Linked DNA regions of Homo sapiens: region 2 is linked to region 1. Evidence: fine-mapped expression QTL. A gene starts in region 1. The other region holds a variant in brackets. All regions are shown on one strand. Distances are from middle to middle. Region 1 holds the start of PART1 (prostate androgen-regulated transcript 1). Region 2 overlaps PART1 (prostate androgen-regulated transcript 1).

The links. PIP is the estimated chance that this variant, and not a neighbour inherited with it, causes the effect. A credible set is the group of variants that fine-mapping cannot tell apart.
Region 2: its variant is the best candidate, but not a certain one, in a credible set for the expression of PART1 in prefrontal cortex (GTEx, PIP 0.82).

What each region holds. Positions count from the first base shown.
Region 1 is chr5:60,484,617-60,489,861 of GRCh38, forward strand. It overlaps PART1 (prostate androgen-regulated transcript 1), which reads left to right and starts at 3,097. Exons shown (of 4, transcript NR_024617.1): 1 at 3,097-3,807. It also overlaps a transcript of PDE4D not described here.
Region 2 is chr5:60,518,308-60,523,552 of GRCh38, forward strand. All of the region lies in intron 1 of PART1 (prostate androgen-regulated transcript 1), which reads left to right. It also overlaps a transcript of PDE4D not described here. Among named protein-coding and RNA genes, the nearest start is that of PART1, 33 kb to the left of the region's middle. RefSeq lists enhancers at 4,115-4,184, 4,335-4,594. The variant G/A (reference allele first, on the strand shown) is at 3,003.

The DNA of each region.
Region 1 (5,245 bases):
ACTCAAGTAATAGATGGATCAGCATTGAAGCTCCAATGGGAGCTTCAATGGGAGCTTAAACAAATGTAAGGTCCAAAAGCCTTCATAACATTAGGATCAAACAGTGAAGATTTTCTTTGCTTCAAAAGTTTTGTCCATTACTGGGAATATGTTTTAGAAGTAAAGAGTCCTAACCCTAGCGTGATGAGCTACAGTCATAATAATAGTGTACATGTACAGCACATTACAAATTACACATTACAATGTTCTTTTGACAAGCACTTTCTCATTGTGATGTGGATATTCACCAATCTAGTAAAATACCAGAACATATATCATTATTTTCATTTTAAAGACATAGAGACTGAGGCTTAGAAAACGTTTCATGGCCTGAGCGTGGTCCCGTTGACTCTAAGATTAATTCACCAAAATGTTCTGCTTCTTGAAATCAGATATTAGAGGAACACAGTTATAGTTAAGTTGGAATCACTGATTGTCTTGAAATTAAATGAAAGCTCCTCTTCTACCAGTGTCTAGCTCCACAAAAGGAGGGACTTAAAGAAATGTAGGGCATTTAACTCCTTGGTGGTGTGCTTTTTCTGTGGGAAGAGGGACATTTGTTTCATTCGTTTTGTTCTGCTTTTTTAAAAACATGCTCAAGGTAGACAGCAACTCTTTTGAAAACACAAAGTAAGAATTATTAAATTCTTGGGCAAGCTGAAGAAATCAAATCAGTCCTATATATAACACAGGAAAAACGTTGGAGGGAAGAGCAAATTTTTCCAAAAACAAAATTCACCAAAAAAAAAAAAACCCACTGGAAAATGTAATTCAATCAAAAAATTATATTTTCTTCAATTTGGATTTATGTCTTTGCTTCAGTAGGTAGTGTTAATAGTCTCCAAATGCCAGTGTGTATTCATGAACACTTAGCAAGTTCATGATGTGATACATTCCTTTTTGGATACATCTTTCGTCAAATCCATCTGTCTATGGCAGATATGCATAGTTTTACAGAACCTTATCTGCAAAAGAACTTCCACAGTTAGACAAAAATGGTTTTAGAAAATTGAGAGGAGTGGATAGAAGAAAGATCAACTATTGCTGTTTGGGAGATTTTTTTTGCTTTCCCCACCATGCCTTGCCCCCAGCCCACTGTCCACTGGGCACCTGGCACCTCTAGACTCCATTTCTTAAAGCTCTGTTCTTTCACAAGTAAGAGATATGACTCTGGCATCTCAGGAAGAACTGAAGTGATGGAAGTCCCAGAGGAAAGTACCGATGCAAGACGTAAATACTCCTAGTATACACCCACCAGAATTTCCTTGAGCCTTGGTTTTAAACATCCTCTGAATTATATAGGCAGCTGATTAATGTTTGATAATTAAGCATTTTTATGTGATTCATCTCAATAAGAGCCCAAGCAAGGTAATGTAAACAATGAAGGCATAAAAAGGTGGAAGGAGATGTGAATACTACACCAAGTGGGCCACATGGACCTAAGGAAAAAGAGGAGCTGAGTTGAAGTCAGGAGCTGATTCAGATAAAGCAGCTTCAACTCTACTACTTCTTACTCTTAGATGGGCTCCAGACCACCTTGAGGGATGGGATTATATTTATTTTATAGATGCACTCCTTTCTCCCACTAATACAGTCAGTTAGGAATGTATAGCTAAGAATGAGCCAACCATTACTATTCGTGTCTATGGCTACAGAAACTCAATAAATCAACTCACTATTCTGGGTCAATAAATGAACTCATTATACTGTTTCTTCATGAAGTAAATGTGTTTCTAAAGGAATGTATTAAAATTACATTTTTAAAAATCTATGTATTTTGCATATATTTGATTGATACAGAAAAGGAGTCTACGTTGGCTACTTTTCTTTCTTTCTACAAACTTCATTCATTGGTGTGATCTGAAAGGGGATAATATTTCAGAAAGCAAAAATATTTTTAACAACAAAACTTTGTATTTCCAGTGTGATCTAAACACAAAATTATGCAAAACACAACTAATATTTCTCTCCTACTGGCTAAATCATGCCAGTTGTTTAGGTGCAATCAAAAATAAGCCACTAATGTTATTTTTATAGGAATTGGCAAGTAATTGCCAACTATAGCTATTAAAAGTTTATATTTGCCACAGGAGCCTGTGATTTTAAATACTGTTCAAATGATTTATGCTTGAGAGTTATACATAGCACAAATACATACATTTGTATCTACAGGTCTAAAGAGGAAAAATTAGACAAAAAGCAACTTGAAAAGGAACCCCTTTATTTTTAATGACCTACCTTTGTGCTGTATTGAGAAAAAGTATAAAAATTATTTGGGAGGAAGAAAAATATTTCTAAGCACTAATTTCATAGGCAAAAGCCCTATTATTTTTTATGATAGGCTAGGGGAAATCAATAATGATTTAAAAGCAAACAGTAAACTGCTCACATTTACCAGTCTATACTCAGTATTAATTCTACCCTGCAGTGTATGCTATAGAAGGTAATGAAATGCTGATGTTTTCTGGTTTTCCACTTCAATCTGCTCCAGCTTTATCCTAAACCTTGTCAGCAACAGAAGTTACCCCCCAGCAATCATACAAACCTAATAACGGCTTCCCTGGCTTAATTTGATCTGCTCCAATCACAAATTCCAATCCACATACTTTCTTCTGTTATGGTTGTGTCTGTATGTGTTTAATGTACTTTTTATAAGGCTTTTTTACAACAAGCGCATGGTTTTTCATTCAGCCCTCTACCACATAAACAGAACCACTGAAGAGCATTTTTGTTCATATAAAAATGTTTTAGTTATTCATAGTGTATGTCTTCAATTGGCTGCAGATTACAGTGAACAAAAGTATTGCTGCCATCATTTTACATTTCTCCTGTTACTGTGCCCTATCTGCTGTGTACCCCTGTCCCCAAAGCATTTATTATAATATTTGCTGCTTGCTCTCAGTTTTGGACTGAGATGCTTGGGGGTGGGAAAACTTAAAACTTGCCTGACTCAAGTGCTCTCTAAGCTTTGATCCCAGCATCCTGCTTTAACCTGCTCCTGTTGGACCTCTGCCACTTTACTGACCCCATAAAACAAACAGAGCTAGCAAATGCATCAAACAGCCTCCTTCAAAATGCAGCTTGACTGTGATTCATGGCACAAAGCTGGAATAACCCTGCCAGTTCTTAGAAGCTTTAAGATTCATCGTCTTGAACTTGATACACATAGTATAGCACCTTAAAAACGAATCATCTGCTAGTTCAGTATTTTCTACTTACAATCACTCCCTCCCAGGGCATGTAATTAATTTACTGAGCTTAAAAAAAAAATATCAGGATTACTCACACAGTCTTGAAGATGCAATGTCAGCTATTTAGGACAGAAACATCCAAGGCCGTGTCAGAACTCAATTACGACTACATATGCATTAAGGCAGGAACTGGCAGGCCTCAGGGTACGCCAACTATAGGACTCGTGCTTCTCGTACGCTGGGCTATAATCTATGAAACTGAGCTCCAGAGCCAGCCAATCACTTAGCTCCTCATAACAAGTCTAACTGGCTCTGGAAAGCTGAAAGGGCTGCACTGGAACAACACAGATGAGATATTCTACACATTAATCTACTTATCTGGAATCACTTTGCCTCTAAAGGCCAGAGAAAAATCACAGCTTCCTTGTCGGAGGGGAAAAGGACAGGTGATCTGGGGAAAACGCAGCTACACCTGGAGCAAGGTCTCTTCCCGGCTTGGCAATCTCAGCTGTGCCGGCGCTACGGGACCCGAGCCGTCCCAGAAACCAAAGGGCAGGCACGGCAGCAAACGCCTGAGGTAATTTTCATCTTTCTTTTTATTTTTAGTAGAATAATGCAGACTGAAAGTGATAAGCATAAAGTCGCTGAGGCAACTAGATATGCTTCGATTTTATTTTACATTTTCCTATTCTAATCGTGTGCAGGATCATTTGTTATGAAGTCTGAGGAGGGGGAGAATTAATGTACCTGAAATAAACTTGAAACTAAAACGATCATTTGTGGAGGAAAATACAGGATTTTCCAGAACAGTTTCAGAGCTACCTTTGCAGATGGGTAGGCTTTTCACCCACCCACAGAAAGAAGAGTCAACGGGGCTGAGACAGGACAGGGATGGGTTTCAGGAGCACAATTAAAAGTTTTTCGTATCTTAAAGAAAATATCTATGTTCAGAGAGAAAATTGAGAAGATAAGTTACTGCCCAGTTCCTCTGGTCTTTGACACTTAGACCACATAAGAATGTTCCATGGTAGAAGGGTTGGGACAGAGAATCTTAGGAATCCTAAGAGAGAATCAATACTGCTCCCCTACCCCAGGTTTTTCTTGTTTTCTTTACAATAGTATCCTTATTTCCCATTACATTTTAGTGTTAGTCATACCAATTACTTGTTACACCATACTTCTACATTTGCAGTTATTAAAGGATCTGCAGAAAACATTTTAAAGTCAAAATGATTATAGAGGCAACTAAAATAAGAAAGCAAAAAAATATGTGAAACTGACATACACATAACCAGAACACCACACCCCTTAGATACTTAATGTACTTAACCCAATGACAAATCCTTCCAAATCCTTAGCAAATTGTCTGTTTCTTTAATACATTTTGTAGCAAGTGTAACATTAGCAACGAAGAAAAACTTTGGCAATAAACTTGTACATAACTAAATCAATCCTTATGCTTTCATAGTGACGATAGAATATACATAATATTTTATTTGTTTTGTTGGACTTATAAAATCCTAAGGCAAGAAGCTGAGAAGAAAATTTTGCTTTATTTAGTGGTGACATATAAACAGTAACAGAAGAGACATTTATGCACTTTTTTTGGCTGTAGATAATTGACTGAATTCAACTTGAGATTTGACACCAGAAAGAAAAACGTTGCAATAGACAGAAAACAGAAAAAGTAATCCATTGGCAATTTCCCCCCAGGGTTTGTTCTTTGAATTGTCCAATCTGTGACTAGCCAGGGAAGAATATTTCTGCTCTGTTTAAATAGTTTTTATTTAATTAAACCTTTGTTTATTTGACAGTGCTGCTGCCTTCGGTGACTATATGAGAATGGAAACTTCTAAGGAAGCCAGGTTGTTAGAATTGTTACCCCCTTTACTCAGAGATAACATAGATTATCCAGGCTGAGATGGAAAACAAGCCCTTTATTGAATTTTCAACACAGACTCCCTGCTTCTCATCTCCTTAATAAAATTTCATTAAAATCCCCTTGAACTCCCATG
Region 2 (5,245 bases), 34 kb after region 1:
GGCCCGAGCAAAACTCAGGCAAAGGCACCATTAGCCACAAAGGTTTCTGGCTGGCAAAGCAACACCCCAAGGATCCTGTGACATTTTCCCCATTTTGCAAGTGAAGCAGATGAGGCACAGAATTTTTAAGCAACGAATACACAGCCTCACAGCTAAAAATTGTAGGAAATATAGAAAGAGAACAACTAAGAGTGGGCTATAAAGCAACCAGGAAAGAAGAGGATACTGAATTGTCAGCTTGACAAAATGGGACTCTATACAGTTTCCATTTGCCTTTAGTTAGAACTACAAGAGTTCATACACACACTCAAGGTAAACAGATGCGTGAACTCCCACAGCCTTTACCTGACCACTTGTGTATGGTATTTGTGGAAATGCCTGGTGTTATTTTTTTTTCTTCAAGAAAGATACTGCCTTTGAGGCTTCCAAACTAGTCTTCATAATGTTGAAAGTTGCTAGGGGCTCATCAGGACACTAATGCACAACCCAAGAAACTATCATCAGATGACTAAATTTCACCCTGCTTATTTGAGACACATCAGTCTCCTACCTTATTTTGGGAAATACAGCAAAATGGCTGGTAGACAGATGGTATTTTGCAGACCAACAAATTTAATCCATGCATCCACAGTCACTGGGGAGAAAACGTCATCAAAACCCCAAAGCCCAGTGAAATACCCATTCCAGAAACGGGGCTAACGTCAACCAACTGGGTTAAATATTGATCATTACATGGTGGTTTCTCCACAGAGCTGTTAAAGGAACTTAAAAAGTTGCTCAAAGGTGAGAGGAGAAGCAAGAAAGAGACAGAGGGCTAGCTATTACTAACGAACTTGAAGTACTTATTTAAAAGAGAGAGAACATTCAGCCTGACATTTAGACATTGCTTATGTGATGTGCACAGTCGTATTAAAGCCCTGACCTAAATTTAGCAGTTTAAAAAGAACTCAGTTTCTACTTCCACCCTTTTCCAAATGCCAGCTGAGAACTGATTTCTCAGACCCTTTCCATCCATAGGAAATCCCTGAGAACTTTACAAAAAATTTAAGAACAAAAAGGTCAGAAAGTTAAAACACAGTATGCAGTCTCTCTCCTTCCTAAAATGGCCATTTGGTTAAAATCCATTATAATGAAAGAGTTAAAATTCTGCACAGTTTAAGAACAACCAGTTGACCTTTAAATGTGCTGGTTTGAATCCAATCACCTTTCAACAAGCATGAAATCTGGCACAAGGTGTACTAATGCACACCAATTATTTTCATAGTGTACATGACTGATCTCACAGCGTCCTGTTTGGAAAAAAAAGAATAGTGTTCATTTTCCAAAAGCCAAACTTAGAGGCTGAGTGTCTCTGTTGGTGGGTGGGATTTTCCTTTGGTAACTGTCTCCAAAAGTGCCTTTGGAGGAGGCTTTTCCTTGAAAAAGCACAGCAGAATACCTTAAGGAAAATAACTTTTTCATTTTGTTTAAATTCTGTTAAATGAAATAGTTTCCTCCAACTTTTAATACGTCAAAGGTAAAAATAGCTGGGAAATAATTAATTACTATCCTTTGTTAAGAGCTTTCAAGCCATATATGTAGGAGAAAAAACAATCCACTGCCAGTGAAAGAGTGAAATACTGAATCCTACTTGGAGTAAATGGATTTAAAACCCAGAGATTCAAAACCAATCGTTGAGAGACTTTCTATTCCCTAAAATGATTATTTTCTTTTTAAAAAGTAATTCCCATGAGATTCTTCTAAATGATAGGATCCTCTGATATCTTCAAAATATAGTTCAAATTACAATGTACCTTCACAGGACTTTTAAGAACACACTGGATGGTTGTTTTTGTGCAATGTACAGACATAGGTGCCCTGTTATGGGGACTACACCATACAGCCAGATACACTCTGGTCAACTGCCAGACTATGTTCCTTCTCACCTCCTTTCTCTTCTACCTCTATGGTTCCTCCTGTACCCCAACCCACCCCATTTCCATCACAGTGGAATGCTCTCCCATGTCAGACAGTAACATGGACTACTAACCCCACACCTGGACCATATTCAAGCCAGAGTCGGATTTTCCTTTGTTGAATCCTTTGCCTGGGAGTGAGACTTCTGACATTCCCTCCCCAAATCCTTCTCTCAGCTCCTCACTTTGGTGGGAGACTTCTGTTGGCCATGCCTGTGTTTGTCAGCCCCTCCCTGCCACAATATTTGATTTTCCTCCTCATTCACTCTCTTTATCTTGTGAGTCCAGAAAAGAGAAAGGTCAGGATCTCACAGCAATATGGGTAGTGGCCCATGGCTTGTGGCCCCGGGCCAGCACTCAGATCTTCACCCACCCAGCCACTTCTGCTTTGGCACTGAGGAGGAAAGGGCTTGATTCAGGAAAAGAAGGCACCGCCTAGGTTGGGCACTATTCACAGACCATGTTAGGAAGACACCTGCTGGCCCACGGCCCTGGCCCAGGAGGCCCCCTTGGAGATTCCCATCAGGAAAGTCTGGTTATGTGCATAGTCCTAAAGATTCCCCCAAAATCAAAGGCTTCCTCCCAGAGTCCTGGCAGAGCAAGGTCATTCCACAGACATGCCAGGAAAGACAGGCAGCCAGAGTCTCTGTGGGCCTCCCTCACTGCCCCTGTCCTAATCTGCACTCATTCCTAAGCAGACCTCCATCACCAGCTTCTTCTAAACAGCACTAATTCTGTTCCTTTTTCCCTACTCCAGGACTGAGAAGACGTCAAGGTCCAGACACTCGTCATTAACACCTACTCACAACCGATTCCCCCACCCACTTTGGCCTCACCAAGATTTGGCAAGCAGGAGAATTAAATGTCACTTTGCTACCATCCTCTGCTGAACCTCCAACAGAAAAACCCATATTGCCCAAGTACAAAGCATGAAATACTGCTGGCCTACCCTGACTTTTCAGCTATTCTCCTTGCATATAGTAAATGACTCCCCAGGAGACATCATCTTAAAGTCTGAGACACAAAAAAGGACCCAAAGTCCTATAT[G/A]CTTGAAGAATTGCATGGCAATATATTTAGTTAACATTTTCTATTTTATTAGAAAAAACAGACAATTCAATTGTCGATGTGATCGTTTCAGGCTTCCCAGCCTCTCCTTTCTGACATCATCCTATATACTACAACCTCCACCAGAAAAGCAGTATGGTACTGGGAAAAAGAGATCTAAAGGCAGAACACTAGGGCTTCACTCTCAGCACTGTTAACTGAGTGACTTGACTAAGTCACTGAAATTCACTGAAACTGCAGTTTCCCCTTCTGTCAAAGGGGGATAACAATATCAGCTTCACAGGGTGCTGTGAAGGAAGCAAATGAGAAAATGAAAGTGAGCATCCTTTTAAATTATAAACAGAGAATAAGGGAGAGGGGAGGGGGAAGGGGAGAGGAGGAAGAAAGGAAACAATCTGCCCTCCCTCACCCCTTCACACTAGGTAAAATAAAATGTTTAGACAGAAAAACCTAAAGAAAAGGATCCAAATAAAATATTCTTAGGAACTGTCAAAGGGAGAAGACATTGGAATCTCCAAATCTGGCCAAGAGCTCAGCCTAAGCAGCATGTTTTGAACTCCTGAGTCCTTGGAACCCTGCACTAAAGCTTTGGGACTCTGACCTGCAGGAAAAAAAAAAAAAAAATGCTTCCCTCAGTTCATTCCCTGTAGTTTAAAAACAAGAGCAACTAAAGGGCAAGCTTCGGGGGCAAGGGGAGACAAACACCTCAGACCATTAACTTACTTTATCCCCATTGGAAATCAACTTCTGGAGAACATTTCAGCTTTGTATGCTCTTCTTGGTCCCACTCAAATGGGAAGTTCTGCTCGAGGCCAGAAATAGAAAACAGGAAGTCAACAGAACTGATTTTCCTAACTGCCCAAATGCAAATCACCACACTCCGTTATGGATGAGAATTAGAGTAAAATGTAAACTTCTTTTTAAAAAGAAGTTCACATGCTAACTGTGTACAGAAAACATCCTACTCCAGGGAAGAAAGAAAGAAAGAAAGAAAGGAAAGATCCATCAGCTTCCTTCCTTAATAAAGGAGGATTGACAGAGCTGGACTGACAGTGAAGTAAAGGTTACCGACGGTGTGCTCATCAGAACCATGCTGCCACTAAAAATAATGAAGTGTCCCACTTTGATGCGACACTATTCTCCAAGTTGGTTCCTCTAAAGGTGCTTTTCTTCAAGGGAAGCAGATACTAAAGTGACAACTTTCTCATTACCATTCAGACTATTTTCTTAGAGTCCCAGGTTTGAAACTTTCAAGTTGAAACTCTAAGCTGCACCCACTGCATACAGACTTCTTAGTCAGTTTCTGTCACGTACCATCATATCTACCTTATTTGCATCAGTCATAAATTCTGCTCATTCTTCTATCACAGCTCCTCTGACATTTGCCAGACCTCACCATTTCCTCAGCCATTTCTGGTCTGAATCATCAGCCCCCCATGCCTGCTGCCTGCTCTCTTCTATAAACATACCAGATGAATCTTTCCAGCATGCTGCTTCCCCTGCCCCCAAGTCAGCCACAGTTCCCTACTACCTATTGATCACATCTGAGTTGCCTCAGCCAGTGGTCTTGCCATATCTACCTAGCTTAGGCTGAGTGTTATAGGAGAAAGTGCACTAGCCCGGGCACCAGATGGATCAGGTAAGACTCTAGCTTAGGTAAGCTTTATCACATCATATAGTGGCTGTGTGGATTGAGGAAAATTATGAAACTTCTTTGCACTTCAGTTTTCTCATTTGCAGAATGAAGATAATAACACCTACCTATACAGTTACTAAGGATTAAATAGGATAATATGCACAAAGTGACCCTAGTGAGTTTCAGTAAGAAGAATTAATGCTTATGAAGTGCTTATCACATTCCAGCTTCTGTTCTGTGTGCTGTGCATGTGTTTATGCAGGTATTATTATTAACCTCATTTTGCAGAAGAGGAACTTGAGGCAAGAGAGAGCGTGTAAAGTCACATAACAAATCCACAGAAGAGCTAGCCTTTGAACTCCAACAGCCTGACTCCAGTGCCTGCATATGTAACTCCATGCTCTACTGCCTCCCATTTCCCTTTCCCTCCAACTTTCACCGGCTAACACAGCCCACAGGTCCACCTCAGTCCTTCTCATCCTTCCAGTCTTCCCTCCACATTCCAACTACCTGTGACAAATGCTATCCTGCATTTTCTCTCCAATCTTACCTGACATCTTGAAGGGAGCAGTTCAGTTACAGCATTCTC